Linked DNA regions of Homo sapiens: region 2 is linked to region 1. Evidence: fine-mapped expression QTL. A gene starts in region 1. The other region holds a variant in brackets. All regions are shown on one strand. Distances are from middle to middle. Region 1 holds the start of SUPT5H (SPT5 homolog, DSIF elongation factor subunit). Region 2 overlaps TIMM50 (translocase of inner mitochondrial membrane 50).

The links. PIP is the estimated chance that this variant, and not a neighbour inherited with it, causes the effect.
Region 2: its variant is the best candidate, but not a certain one, in a credible set for the expression of SUPT5H in fibroblasts (GTEx, PIP 0.89).

What each region holds. Positions count from the first base shown.
Region 1 is chr19:39,444,467-39,447,269 of GRCh38, reverse strand. SUPT5H (SPT5 homolog, DSIF elongation factor subunit) reads right to left here and starts at 1,688. Exons shown (of 30, transcript NM_001111020.3): 1 at 1,633-1,688; 2 at 1,305-1,466. The coding sequence starts at 1,379. RefSeq lists enhancers at 1,259-1,478, 851-1,647, 1,619-1,888, 1,648-2,445.
Region 2 is chr19:39,487,850-39,490,652 of GRCh38, reverse strand. TIMM50 (translocase of inner mitochondrial membrane 50) reads right to left here. Exons shown (of 11, transcript NM_001001563.5): 9 at 2,436-2,592; 10 at 2,008-2,114; 11 at 1-934. The coding sequence ends at 833. Among named protein-coding and RNA genes, the nearest start is that of TIMM50, 8.4 kb to the right of the region's middle. The variant C/T (reference allele first, on the strand shown) is at 1,156.

The DNA of each region.
Region 1 (2,803 bases):
CCTTACCACAGCCTTCAAGATCCTATATGACTTGGCTCTCATAAATTCTTTGTTGCACTCACTCTGATCCAACCAAAGTGGACCCCCTTTTTTTAGGGGGTGGTGGGGAGACAAAGTCTCACTCTGTCACCCAGGCTGCAGTGCAGTGGCACCATCACAGCTCACTAGACCTTCACCTTCTGGCTCAAGCAATCTTCCCACCTCAGCCTCCCAAGTAGCTGGGACTACAGAAGCGTGCCACCAAGCTCAGCTAATATTTTTATAAGACGGAGTCTTGCTCGTCGCCCAGGCTGCAGTGCAGTGGCGCGATCTCAGCTCACCACAGTCTCCACCTCCCTGGTTCAAGCGATTCTCAGCTTCAGCCTCCCGAGTAGCTGGGATTACAGGTGGGCGCCACCATGCCAAGCTAATTTTTTTGTATTTTTAGTAGAAATGGTGTTTCACCATGTTGACCAGGCTGGTCTTGAACTCCTGACCTCAGGTGATCCACTGTCTTGGCCTCCCACAGTGCTGAGATTACAGGTGTGAGCCACCAAGCCCGGCCTCAGCCAATGGTTTTTATATTTTTGTAGAGACAGGGTCCCGTTGTGTTACCGAGATTGCTCTCAAACTTCTGGGCTCAAGTGATCCTCCCAGCTTGGCCTCTCAAATCCTCGTTAATCCCTGAACACGGCGGACACACTCCCATCTCTGCACCTGCTGGTCCCCCTCACTGGAACACTACACTTCCAGCTAACCACGACTCACTCCCTCACCTCCAACAAGTTTTTGCTCAAATGTCACCCCTCAGACTCATGCTGATGACCCTATTTCAAGAGCAACCAGGACTCTCCATTCCCCTTTTCTGTTCTTTTCTCCAGAGTACCTTCCAGCTTACTATATAGTTTATTCCTTGGCTATATTTATTTACATTCCCGAAGGCAGACATTTTTAAAATCTTTTTGTTTACTGGTGTACCCTAAGAGCAAAGAATTGCGCCTGGTACATAGTAGGCACTACAAATATAGTTATGGAATGACTAGACATAACTAAAAAAAAAAACTAATGCTAAGTGCTTACTATATGCACACAGAGTAAACTTTCAAAACATCACCTGTTATCTCACTGGACCTGACCCATTTCTGGCCTCCAGAACCTGTCCCTTTGCTTGACTTCGACTTGCCTAATTCTCTATCTCTTGAGACAATCTGGGAGTTCCCAGAAGCCAGAGCCCGCTGTGAACCCCTCGAGCCTCCCACAGGGGCCTTTCTGCCCGGAGTCCTGTCCCCAGACGCAATGTCTCCCCCAGCGCCCCAGCCACAGACCTCGGCCTCCTCGCCGTCACTGCTGCGCTCGCTGTCCTCCTCCTCGGAAAAGTTGCTGTCCTCGCTGTCCGACATCTTCCGCTGCTGCTGGGAAAGACAGCAGCCTTGGCGCGTCCCACAATCCTGCGCTCCACCCCGAGCCTCAGTTTCCCCGCTGGTTCCCTGGGAGAAGAAAACCCCTTAGGGCGCTTCCGGCAGGCTCGTTTTGGCAATCGCGAAGCGGAGTGAGGACCCCCTCCTACGCCACATGCTAGACCTCCCCAGTTTCCGAATCTGTTCTCTACACCTCCCCGGCGCCCGGAACTGCCACCTCTGCACACGCACTTACCTCTCGGGCTCCACCTCCGCCTTCGGTACCAGCTGCTGTTCGCACGACGCCTGACTGGGGCTGACGGGTCCTCTCGCGAGAACCTACCCGTTGACCTCGCCTAACACGAGATTTCCGGGGCTGGCACGGGCGACGCACTTCCAGGTCGCCATCTTGAGAGAGGCAGGGCTGGCCTGGGCGGAGTGCGGGGCCGACATCTGCGGAGGGTTAGGAGGGGAAAGGTTTTTTCTACCCGCCGGCTCGGCGACCAGGCTGAAACTCATGTTTGAATTTAGTGAGCCGTTTGTTCGTTAGTCCGGAACACTAGCGCGGTAGGCCAAGCTGCGAGGAGGCGGCGAAATCAGCGAATAGCAAATTATAAAAGAAACAAGGCTTTATCTCCTAGGCCCTCTAAAGCATCCCCAGGAGATCCGTATCCCCGTTTTGGAGAGAACGCTGAAGCTCAGAAAAACTCAGTGGAAAGCGGCAGACCCAAGCCTCCTCGCCAAGTCTGAGTGACCGTGAAGCCCTGGTTTTTCCTTCTTTTTCTTTCTTTTTGTACTTTTTTTTTTTTTTTGGTAGAGTCGGGCTGTTGCCCGGCCTGGTCTCAAACTCCTCTAACTCAAACTAAAAAGCCATCCTCCGGCCTCGTCCTGCCAAAGTGCTGAGATCACAGGCATAACCTGCCGCGCCCGGCCCAAGTCCCTATTTTTCTTTCCAGGCTTCCTAAGTTCATTTAAAGGCGAATTTATCTATTAGTAATGACGGCTGACGAGTGATGGCAGAGTGGACAGGTGTAATGGAGAGATGAAAAATGAACCTTCGCCTGTAATCCCAGCGCTTTGGGAGGCTGAGGCGGGAGGATCACCTGAGGCCAGGTATTTGAGACTAGCATGGGCAACAAATTGAGACCCCATGTATCCAATTTTTGTGTTTTTTTTAATGTGGTGTGGTGGCGTGTGCCTGTGGTCCCTGCTACTCCAAAGGCTAAGGTGGGAGGATCACTTGAACCCATGTTGAGGCTTCAGTGAGCTATGATTGCACCACTGCACTCCAGACTGGGTAATAGAGACCCTGTCTCTAAAAAAAAAAAAAAAAAAAAATTAAAACTTAAATTTTTAAAAATTGAAAAATTAACCTGATAGGGGAAATTTTAAAAATCAGAAGTCTATGTCAGTCGCGGTGGCTCATG
Region 2 (2,803 bases), 43 kb before region 1:
TTTGGGAGGCCAAAGCAGGAAGATTGCTTAAGACTAGGAGTTTGAGACCAGCTTGGGCACCAAGACCCCATCTCTACAAAAAAAAAATTTGTTTAAATTAGCTGGGTATGGTAGCACGCACCTGTAGTCCCCAGGAGGGTACTCAGGAGGCTGAGGCAGGAGGGTCACTTGGAGATCACTTGAGCCGGGAGGTCAAGGCTGTTGTAAGCTAAGATCACATCAATGCACTCCAGCCTGGGCAACAGTGAGACCCTGTCTCAAAAAAAAAAAAAAAATATTCCCAAGTTCTTGCTTCTTTTGAACAACTGGCGTGTCAAGCAACTCCAGGCCCCCTTTACCCCAGGGCCACACTGGCTGGAGCCAACCAGCAGCTGGCCTGTTGAGAGGGGTAATCTCTGGTCCACCAGAGGCCCACTAGGCCCATAACACATTCTCTCCACAGTAGCCTGGCAGCTACCTGTCTTTAAAGCCAAGTGCCATCCTCTCTTCCCTTCTCCACAGATGAGGAGTCTGTGGTCAGAGGGAGATGTATTTTTCACAGATCACGCAACACACAGGAAGACACAGCGAGGGTTTTTAGATTCCGAGACCAGGGTGAAAAATCTGCTCTGATCCAACAAAGCACCCCCACTGTGCTTGGCAGCCGATCAGCCACTGTGGGACGATGACCCAAGAGTCCCGGACCTCACCCTGATGCCCCCATCTGGAGACTCTCGGGACACAGCAGGTGTGGCGTCTGGGATGTACTTTATTGGACAAGTGGTGGCCCAAGTCTTGGTCTGGAAGCACTGGGGCCCTGGACCCAGGCACTGAGTTTGAGGAGGCCCAGAGTTCAGGGCTGTTTGGAGCGAGGCCACAAGCGGCTGGTGAGGGAGCCAAGGAAGAGGTTCTGCTTGTTGGACTTGGAGAGCTCGGCCAGGCGCTGCTGCTCCTCCTGGGGTAGGGGGACAGTTGGAGGAGAGGGTCAGCGCAAGGTGGACAGAGCCTCCTCCCAGATGCCCAGGTCCCCAGGCCTCAGCCCAGGGACCACCTTTCCTTCTGACTTCTGCCAAGTCCAGACCCCTTTCCCCAAACCCTGGGGCCCCCAGCCCAGACACAAGGGACCCTAGACCCCAGTCCCCCCACCCCAGACACTAGGAAGAGCCAGCTCTGAGC[C/T]GCAGGAGCCTAGGCTTCAATGTTTGGGGGACGACAGACTCCAATACTAGGCACTCGAGGTATTCAGGCCTGAACTGCAGTAGGTTCTCAGGCCCCAGACTGTCATAATCTCCTTCCCCAGATCCCAGGGACCCCTCCCCTGAGCCTGAGATCCTATCGCAGACCCTGTTACCCCAAGGTGAATGCTGGTGAGATCCCAGGTCCAAACCCCATGGCCCTCCTCACCAGACTGCATCATCCTGCCCCTGGGCCCTCTGAGCCCCATGACCCCTCTCTGGATGCAGGGGTGGGGGGTTCCCTGGGGGGTCCCCAGGCCCAAATCTCTAGGGACTTCTCTGGGCACTCAGGGGCTCCCAACTCTAGGAACCTAACCTAGAATCTGGTGAACCTCAGCCTAGACCCCTGGGAATCTTACCCAGACGCAATCCATACTCTCAGTCCCACTTCCAAATTACCAGGGTCCCACCAAGACTATCACATCTCTCCCCACAGCCTTGGGCCACGTGCCCAGGGAGCCTCTTTCCAGGCCTGATCTAAAACCCACAATCCACCTCCACAAGGTGCCCCCAGACCTACTCAAGACCATCAAGGGCAACCCCTCTCCCAGCCTAATCTCAAATCCTCTCCTGTTTCCTGTTCTCAGAGCAGGCTGCAGAATCAATGCATCCCCTCATTCTGGCAGCCCTACAGGACAGGCTGTGTTATATCCCCCTGGTTACAGAGACTGAGGCAGAGAGGAGGTATCTGCTCAGGGTCACACAGCCAAACCAAGAGTGTGGAGATGGACTGCCCCAGGCTCCTCCTTCAGGAGCCTCAGAGCCGATCCTCCACTCTGGGCATCTGAGCACCAACCTGCTCTAGCCGGCTTTGCCGCTGTTTGAAAGCCGCCAGCGGGTCATCCTCCAGGGCATAGTGCTCCAGCACGGTTCGCACGTCCTCCACACCATTCAGTGCAATGGCTGTGGGCACAACAGGGGGTGGTCAGCCAGGCTTCTAAAGGCCAGAGGGAGGCAGGGCCCATGAGGGGAACGTCCCGCACTGGGGCACGGGGGCAGTCAGTGCTACCTGGAATGCTTCTGAACGCTCTGAAAGGGCTCCCCTGAACATCCCCAAGTATCCCCCAAACATTCCATGAACATCCTAAGAAGCTCCTAAAGACTCCAAGGTGCTCAGGCACCTCTTGCACCTCAGTCGCCCAGCCATGAATCATGCATTTATCCTTCCTCTTCAGAGTCAGGGGCTCTGGGGTCAGAGGCCAAGGGATCAGGGGTCAGCCTTACTCTTGAGGAAGGCAGACAGATCCAACAAGACCCGGTCATCAGAGTTGCCGTCCCAGGGCCGCAGGGCAACGCCGTTATAGGGCTGCAGGCGGAAGGCTTCCTTCTTGCAGTCCACAACTACTACTCGAGCTGGGTCCCGATTCAGACATGAAATATCCTGGAAGTGAGTGACAGATCAGGTCAACATCTGTGCCCAACTCTCCCCCCATCAAGAAGACCCAAAACACACAAAACATACATACATACACAGCATCACACATACTGGGATCACAATGGCAGGGCCTCTCAAAGACCGGCTTTGGATGATGGCATCGACCCCCACAGAGGGCCAGGCATGGTGGCTCACGCCTGTAATCCCAGCACTTTGG